Linked DNA regions of Homo sapiens: region 1 is linked to region 2. Evidence: fine-mapped expression QTL. A gene starts in region 2. The other region holds a variant in brackets. All regions are shown on one strand. Distances are from middle to middle.

Region 1 (4,395 bases), 190 kb after region 2:
GGTTCTAGAAGAAAACTCGTCAATGGCTAGGGAGATAGAATTGACCCTGTGATCTGGGAAGTGAGTTCTTTCCCCCAGCCAAGGCTGGTTCCATGGTTGCAGGTGAAGATCAAGTTGGTCTTCCAGGTCTCACTAAGCATTGTAACCTTGGGCTTCACTCTATTATTTAAGTCATTAGAATCTGACAAATGTAGTATTATTCATTTAGAGATGATTTTTCCTAATTTTATATATATTTTTTGTAATAAAAGTTTTTGTAGGCCAGGCGCAGTGGCTCATGTCTGTAATCCCAGCGCTTTGGGAGGCTGAGGCAGGAGGATCCCTTGAGGCCAGGAGTTTGAGACAGTCTGGGCAACACAGGAAGATGTTGTCTCTACTGAAAATAAAAAAAAGTCAGCTGAGTGTGGTGGCACACCCTATGGCCCCAGTTGCTCAGGAAGCTGAGGTGGAAGAATTGCTTGAACAAGGGAGGTCAAGGGTGCAGTGAGTGGTGATTGTGCCACTACATTCCAGCCTGAGTGATGGAGTGAGTTTTGTCTCAAGAAAAAGAAAAAAAAATTAACCATGTGTTAACAGCTACATAACAAACTTACCATTACAGCCACTTTTTAAAAATTAAATCAATTAGTTAATTTTTTTAGAGATGACAGTCTTGCTCTGTCACCCCACTGGAGTGCAGTATCATAGCTCACTCTAGTGTTGAACTACTGGGCTCAAGGGATCCTCCCACCTCAGCCACCAGAGTAGCTGTGATTACAGGCACATGCCACCATGACCTACAACCATTTTTTAAGTGTATAGTTCAGTAGTATTAAATGCATTCACATATATGGCATTTTTAAAGATATCTTCAGTGCCTAAATGTGCAGAATTGTTTTCAAATCTTTTAGATAATTAATTTAGACACTGACAAGAGGAAGTGACAGACTTGGCTCTGAAATTCCCAGGGACTGCACTTTTAGGGTTTATGAGAGCACCTCATACCAGGCAAGGGTAGGTGCACCTCAGGGCTCAGCAGGAAGCAACAGCAGGGACAAGGACAGAGATTCTCTGAGAATTTGCTATGTGTCAGTGTCTGTTCTGAGATAGGTTAGAAGTAATGAGCTGGGGCCAGGTGCAGTGGCTCACACCTGTAATTCCAGCACTTTGGCAGGCTGAGGTGGGAAGATCACTTGAGGCCAGCCTGGGAAACGTGGTGAAACCCTGTTTCTTCTAAAAATACAAAAATTAACCAGGCGTGGTGGTGCATGCCTGTAATTCCAGCTACTCAGGAGGGTAAGGCAGGAGAATCGCTTGAACCCGGGAGGCGGAGACTGCAGTGAGCCAAGATCGCGTCACTGCACTCCAGCCTGAGTGACAGAGTGAGACCCCATCTCAAAAATAATAATAATAATAATGAACTGACTAGTGCCACCCTGATCTTTTGTGAATCCTTCCACCATCTTATAAGACTGCCTTACCTCCTCAGACACTTGCCCCTGTCAATGTGTCTTTTTCTTCTCCGTGGTTTTATGCTTTCTCTATTGGCTTCCTATCCACATGTAAATATGCTGTTTCCCATTTTAATAAAACAAACCAAACCAAACAAACAAAACCTTCCCTTGTCAAAATCCTCCCTTTTAACTTTACATTCTTTTTGTGTTTGCTTATGCTTTAATGTAGGGTTTCTTTTTTCCTTTCAAAGCTGTGCAAGCATGGGCATGGTTGCAAGTGTCAAATCATTTTCCAAGGCCTTTGACAAAAAACAGCAGTCCTTGCCCCTCTGCTGCTTCTTACTCCCCCCAAACAACTATGAGTACTTTCTATTCTTTCAACCAGTATTTTTTTTAAAAAAGAGTATCTCCTCATCTCAGAATAAGAAGCTTGCTCACATTTTTCCAGCTTTGGCCATTGGGAGCTCTTTCAGATTGGCTCCACATCCCTCTTGTTTTCTGAGCAATTCCTTTCTTCCTGGCACTATACTTACTTTTTGCCAAGCTTATCTTGTATTTTCCCTTATCCAGCCCTAGAATCAGTTATTTTCCAAGGAGCCCTGGTTTCTTTCATTGAAGAGTGGTTTTTGGAAAGCCAAATCTATGCACAAGTGTGCTCATTGCTACTGGGTGGACACTGCTTCTAGGCCTTCTCAGTGGACAGTTAGAAAATAAATGCGTGTATTTCT[G/A]TGTACAGCAAGTCCTTACTTAACATCAATAGGTTCTTGGAAACTGCAACTTTAAGCAAAATGACATATAAAGAATCAAATTTTTTTCTTTTTTTTCCTTAGGACCTCATGATGCAACAGTAGAAACCAAATTTTTTTCATGAACAGTCTAAAAAATGACATTTAATGAAACATTATTTGAGGACCTGCTGTATATTGTTTCCTTTAAAGTCGCAAAGTCTTGCAGGTGCTGTGGCTCTTGCCTGTAATCTCAGCTACTTGGGAGGCTGAGGTGGGTGGATCATGTGAGGCCAGGAGTTTGAGATCAGTCTAAGCACACATAGGGAGACTCCCATCTCTAGAAGTCATTAAAAAATTAGCAGATGTGGTGGCACGTGCCTGTAGTCCCAGCTACTTAGGAGGCTGTGGTGGGATGATCTCTTGAGCCCAGGAGTTGGAGGCTGCAGTTAGCATGATATCTAGTGCACTCCAGCCTGGGTGATAGAGTGAAACCCCATCCCTGAAAAAAAAAAAAAAAAAAGAAAATAACTAAAGAAAACAAAATTTTAAACTCGCATATATGAAAGTTCATTCTTTCTACTGTGAAGTTATATGGGTTTTAAAAAATGCATAGTCATGTATACACCGCTCCAGTGCTGGGTAAAACAATTGCATCCCCCTAAAAATTGTCTTTATAGTCTCTAGTTCAATTTTTGATTGCACTTATCAAATTCCTTTGTCTTTTTAAAATTTTATTTATTTATTTTTGAGGCAATGTCTTTTTCTGTCATTGAGGCTGGAGTGCAGTAGCACCATCATGGCTCACTGCAGCCTTGAACTCCTGGGCTCAAGCAATCCTCCTGCCTCAGCCTTCTGAGTAGCTGAGACTACAGGTGTGCACCCAACTAATTAAATTTTTTTCTTTTTTTGTAGATACAAGGTCTCGCTGTTCTACCTAGGCTGTTCTAGAACTCCTAATGTCAAGCTATCCTCCTGCCTCGGCCTCCCATGCTGTTGGGATTACAGGTGAGAACCACCGTCCTTGGTCACAAATTCCTTTAAAGAGCTGTGCAATGGCTCTCACAGCCATTGCAGTACACTGAACTCCATAGAGACAGCACTGGGCAAGTGAGAACCAGACAGGCATTGGGCGACTCTGCCTCACTGAGGAAAAATAACTAAAAATGGGCAAAGGAGATCCTAAGAAGCTGAGAGGCAAAATGTCATCATATGCATTTTTTGTGCAAACTTGTCAGGAAGAGCATAAGAAGCAGCAGCCAGATGCTTCAGTCAACTTCTCAGAGTTTTTAAGAAGTGCTCAGAGAGGTGGAAGACCATGTCTGCTAAAGAGAAAAGTGAAGACATGGCAAAGGTAGAGAAGGCCCATTATGAAAGAGAAATGAAAATCTATATCCCTCCTAAACGGGTGACAAAAAAGAAGTTTGAGGATCCCAGTGCACCCAAGAGGACTCCTTTGGGCTTTTTTTCTGTTCTGTTCTGAGAATTGCCCAAAAATAAAAGGAGATCATCTTGGCCTGTCCATTGGTGATGTTGTGAAGAAACTAGGAGAGATGTGGAATGACACTGCTGCAGGTGACAAGCAGCCTTATGAAAAGAAGGCTGCGAAGTTGAAGGAAAAATATGAAAGGATATTGCTGCATATTGAGCTAAAGGAAAGCCTGATGCAGCAAAAAAAGGAATCATCAAGGCTGAAAAAAGCAAGAAAAAGAAGGAAGAGTGCCAGGCTCAGTGGCTCACACCTGTAATCCCGGCACTTTGGGAGGCCGAGGCAGGAAAATCACCTGAGGTCAGGAGTTTGAGACCAGCCTGGCCAACATGGCAAAACCCTGCCTTTACTAAAAAAATACAAAAATTAGCTGGGCGTGGTAATGCATTCCTGTAATCCCAGCTACTCGGGAAGCTGAGGCATGAGAATCACTTGAATCCAGGAGGCAGAGGTTGCAATGAGCCAAGATCGCACCATTGCACTGGAGCCTGGGCGACAGAGCAAGACTCTGTCTCAATAAATAAATAAATAAATAAATAAATAAATAAATAGAGGGAAGAGGAGGAAGATGAAGAGGATGAGGAGAAGGAGGAGGATGAAGATGAAGAAGATGATGATGCTGAATAAGTTTGTTTTAGTGCAGTTTTTTTTCTTATCTATAAAGCATTTAAGCCCCTTGTACACAACTCATTCCTTTCAAAGAAAAACAATTGAAATGTAAGTCTGTGTAAGATTTATTTTTAAACTA
Region 2 (4,395 bases):
TGAAAAGGGAAGTAGAAGAGAAAACAATTTGAGGAGGCAGGAAGAGCAGGGAGGTGATACTGGTGTCTCTAACCCCCTTATCTCCAAGGGTTTCCTCTTTGGAGGTAGAGAGATGAAGAGGGGTGAAGAGGGATGCAGGAATTTGGCCTGGGGAAATTAGAAGAATGAGGAGTCTGGAATTAGGATGCTAAGACAAATGAAAAGTAACTAGGTAATAATGAAGCGGGATGATGGAAGTTATGAAGACCTCAGGCTAAGAGATATTTGGAAAAAGGGATTAGGAGAAAAATGAGATGATGAAGCACTAACATTAGTCAAGAATAGGAGGCAGGAGGAAAAAAGGTGATTTGGGGTAGAGGAGAGGCAACTTTCACGTTTTGTACAGTTACATTTTTTCAACAAATTTTAAATTTTTCAATATATATATTTTTAATAGAGATGGAGTCTCACTATGTTGCCCTCACTGGTCTCCAACTTCTGGGCTCAAGCAATCTGCCTGCTTTGGCCTCCCAAAGTGCTGAGATTACAGGTGTGAGCCACTGTACCCAGCCTTCAGTAAATTAAAAAAAATAAGAATTCCAGGTCAGGAAATAACAATGGCAGTATAATTATCAGCATCATTATTAGTATATTAATTTTATCAAGTGCTTATGATGTGCCAGGTACTTTTCTCAATGTTCCACACTATTAGCTTATTGAGTCCTCATAACAACCCTGAAATACTTGATATAACATCTCCATTTTGCAGATGAGGAAACCAAGTCAAAGAGAGGTTATCTAAAGTGGTGGAACATGGATTTGAATCTAAGCAGTTGCTCTTCCACACTCTTCACCACCATGCTAACCCGAACAACAAAAAAACCTTTTTGGGAGGCATCCCCAGGTCAGAAGTATTAAGTGGTTATTACACACCAGGCACCTATTCTAGAGGCTTTACATAAATTATCAAGCTTTATTTCATTCTCACAATAATCCTATGAATAGGTATTGCAATCCCTTCCCCACTGAAACTTTCTGGAATCCGAAATTCTGATACACCTATATAGCTATATCTACATCTATGTAGATACAGATAGACACACACACACACACACACACACACACACACACACACACATTCTTCTATGTATCTAACTGTAGTTCACATATAAAGTAATCATAAATCACTCCTATTGAGATAATTAGAAAAAAAGGAATCATGGGCTGGGAAGAGAAAAGGGAGAAAAAGCAGAGGACAGAAAAGACGAAAAGGTTTGCAGAAAAACTTTAGTATAACAGAAATCAAGAAAATGGAGGGAAAGTAAACTCAGGTCTTAGTAGTAACTCCTGAGACTTTAAGAAAAAGGAGGCTGTGACCATAATTTGGAATGACATGATGACGGCAGAAAATAAAAGTGGTTTTGGAAGGGGAATAAATTAATACTGCTTTGCTACTCATAAATATTCAATAAAGATTACCCATGTTATTTGCAATGCAAACATACAAGCTACTCTTCATCTCTGGGACGGAGAATAGGTTATAGAAGATGTGATTAAAGTCACAAAATCAGAAAGATTTTAAGCTGGAACACCAGTCTTAAGCATGCATATTAGCTGCAGTAAGAATGAATTCACATGCATATTCTTACAAATGAGACATCCTGAAGTAACTAGCAAGCAAAGAATATGGATGAAAATTTATTGTATAATTTGAGTGGCAATGATTTTTCATTAAGATATGTGAACAGCCTCTGATATATCTAGTGTGCTGTTTTAAATTTTTAGTGAACATTAAAACATGCTATAGGGGCTTTCATAAATCAACTCACGACCTGAATTCTTCCAACCCCATTCCCCGCGCGCCCCAAAATGTCTTAGGTTAGCATTTTCAAAGCCTAATCCTCACAGAGAGCAAGGTTCTGTATTATTGTGATTCCCATTGTATTTCTATCGATCAGGAAAACCTCAGGGAGGTTAGATAACTTCCCCAAGGTCATTATCTGATTTCAAAGCCCTTGCTCTTTCTATCCAGTAGAACTACATTGAACCCGGAGCAGCTAATGGGATGGGAAGACCTGAGTCATTTGATGGGAGGGATGAAGAGGCCAGGGAGCCCCCAGCCTGAGGACAGAGTGGGAAACTGCGGGCAGGGAAGGTCGACCCCCCCGTGAGGGGCTGGCGGTGGGTAGGGGCTTCCCGGAGAAGGGTGAGGTGACGGTAAGGAGGGCCTAGGCCGGGCCAGGTAAGCTTGCAAAAGAATGCCGCAGAGGGGTGGTGGGTTAGGAGGGCTCAGCCAGGGTAGGGGCGGTGGGTGGGTGGGTGGGGGGGGTTCCACGGCCGAGCAGAGCCTGGGAACCGGCAGGGACGGGCGAGAAGGCTACCCTGCAGGCCGCACCAGGAAGACAGGTACGCGGAGCCGGGCCTGGCCCAGCGCAGCCGCGCTCCTCGCTATCCCGCCAGCCTCCGGGAGCCGTCTCCGGCATCGTGGGGTTGTCCTCCTCCAGGGGCCCGCGGCCTCTCACCTGCCGGGTGGCCGCAGCGCCGCCCCTCCTCCATCTCGCAGTCCGGACCCCAGCTCCGCCTGCCGCTCTGGATGATGCAGGACTAGAGGCATCATCGCCATCGCCACCGCCTCCGCGCATCCCGGGAGCCGCGGCAAGACGCGGGCGCAGAGGCGCAGTCACGGAGACGCCGAGGGCACCGCCCCCTCCGCCGGACACCCGGGCCTGGCGTCCCGCCTGCGCCCCGCACCCTCCGCGCCTCCGTCGCCTGCCTCCTGGGGCCCAGAGCCCGGCCACTCCCGCTGCCCGCCTCACGAGGGGCGCTTGAGCCAGGTTTTTCAGGCTCGCAGTTTTGCTGTTTGGGGAACTCAAGCTCCCTGAAATAGCCAAAACCTGAAACGCAGAGCAAGGTGGAGTGGTAAGGAAGGAAGGGAAAGATAGGGGTACTGATGGCACGCAGGGACCCAGGGAGGTCTTTGCGGGCCTCCCTAGGCTGCTTACCCTGCCCGCAGCCCACCTCCTCCTCGTTCCCCGCGCTTTTAAGACGTCCTAACTAGCTCCTCACTTAGGCTGCGGCTAATATTTTTCCTCATGAATTAAATTGGCGGCGGCTTCCAGTTTGGAACTTTGAGACCTAGAATTTACAAATCAAGTCATTGTAATAGAATTTAAATTAAACCTATTTGAACTTACCTAAGCTCTCTTAAGGTATTAGTGAATTCACTGAGGGAACTCAGCAAGGGGACTAATTGGCAGGAAACATGCAAAGCATAAAGAAACTACCCATGCAAATAAAACGACCAAGCCCAGGAATCATGGATATTGATGTATTACTTAATACTATGTTGAATGTAAAAAATCTTGATAAATCATAGTGCAATGTACAAGCTAATTTTATTAAGCACAAACACAAAACTAAAATTACCATCCTCTCTCATTCTTCTAGAATTCATACATGTCCAAAATAATGAACTCCTAAGATAGGTTTTAGTCTGAACAATCAAGTAACATTCCTAAGTATGTCTGCTATGATGGGTACAAAATAAAACCAGTTAAACTCTTCTCCCTTCAGTATCCCAACCTGGCTAACTAGGATCTTACTACTTTTCTAACCTCAGGGATGCTATTTAGAAACAGAGAATGTTATTTGAATGCCCTTTCCTTCATTCACTCTGGTTACCAGAAAAGCAAAGTTGATTCCGTTCGGATGAAATACTTATACTGGATTCTTCATTTTAGCTAATGGTTTATCTTTTTAAAACAGAACTAGCAAGTATCAAGTAATTTAATTAATGCAATTTCTTCAGTTCCCTGTGCTTTCATAAAAACAAAACAAAACAAAAACAAACGAAAAAACAAAAAGCAAGAAGGCTAGATAACTTATTATTCAGTCCAGGAGTTGAGTATGCCATCAGAATTCTGTTTAGAAATAACTTCAAGAAAGTTTTCCAGTTCCCACATATTCCACTTCCCAACCACTTGCAATAAAGCAGTTCCAGTATATGTTATCAATAATGGTAACCATGAGTCCCAGAAACAATCCACAGAAAAATACTCATTAGCATTTGGAGTGGGAATTCTGATCAAAATTATATACCTCTCTATAATAAATTAGCTACTGCATAAATAAATGCTAGTTCATTTCCAGGCATTTGGCTATATGAATGGAGATTACAATAGGTTTGGGCTGCATTGAGACCATCAGAGTTATACCTACCGGAGAAATGGTCTGAAACTGAAAACAAACAAAAAACCACAAATCATAAAGGATTCTAGAGATCTAGAAGAGGAAATCAGGACTCATCAAAGTTCCAGAACTAGCTAGAACCATTCAACAAGGCTAAAACTAGTATATCTACAAAATCCACAAGTGAGCGAAATTGGAAAAAACATTGGTAGTAGTAAAAAAATGGAA

Direction of the effects. Alleles are on the strand shown, and positions count from the first base shown. SD is a standard deviation of normalised expression in the study named.
With allele G in place of A in region 1, the expression in monocytes after LPS of the gene that starts at base 2,641 in region 2 is lower (large effect, 0.84 SD a copy in Quach 2016).

What was found. PIP is the estimated chance that this variant, and not a neighbour inherited with it, causes the effect.
Region 1: its variant is fine-mapped to the expression of GPR75 in monocytes after LPS (Quach 2016, PIP 0.95).

The regions. Positions count from the first base shown.
Region 1 is chr2:54,047,885-54,052,279 of GRCh38, forward strand. It overlaps a transcript of ACYP2 not described here and the pseudogene HMGB1P31. Among named protein-coding and RNA genes, the nearest start is that of ACYP2, 66 kb to the right of the region's middle. The variant G/A (reference allele first, on the strand shown) is at 2,162.
Region 2 is chr2:53,857,327-53,861,721 of GRCh38, forward strand. It overlaps GPR75 (G protein-coupled receptor 75), which reads right to left and starts at 2,641. Exons shown (of 2, transcript NM_006794.4): 1 at 2,502-2,641. GPR75-ASB3 (GPR75-ASB3 readthrough) reads right to left here and starts at 2,641. Exons shown (of 10, transcript NM_001164165.2): 1 at 2,502-2,641. The coding sequence starts at 2,602.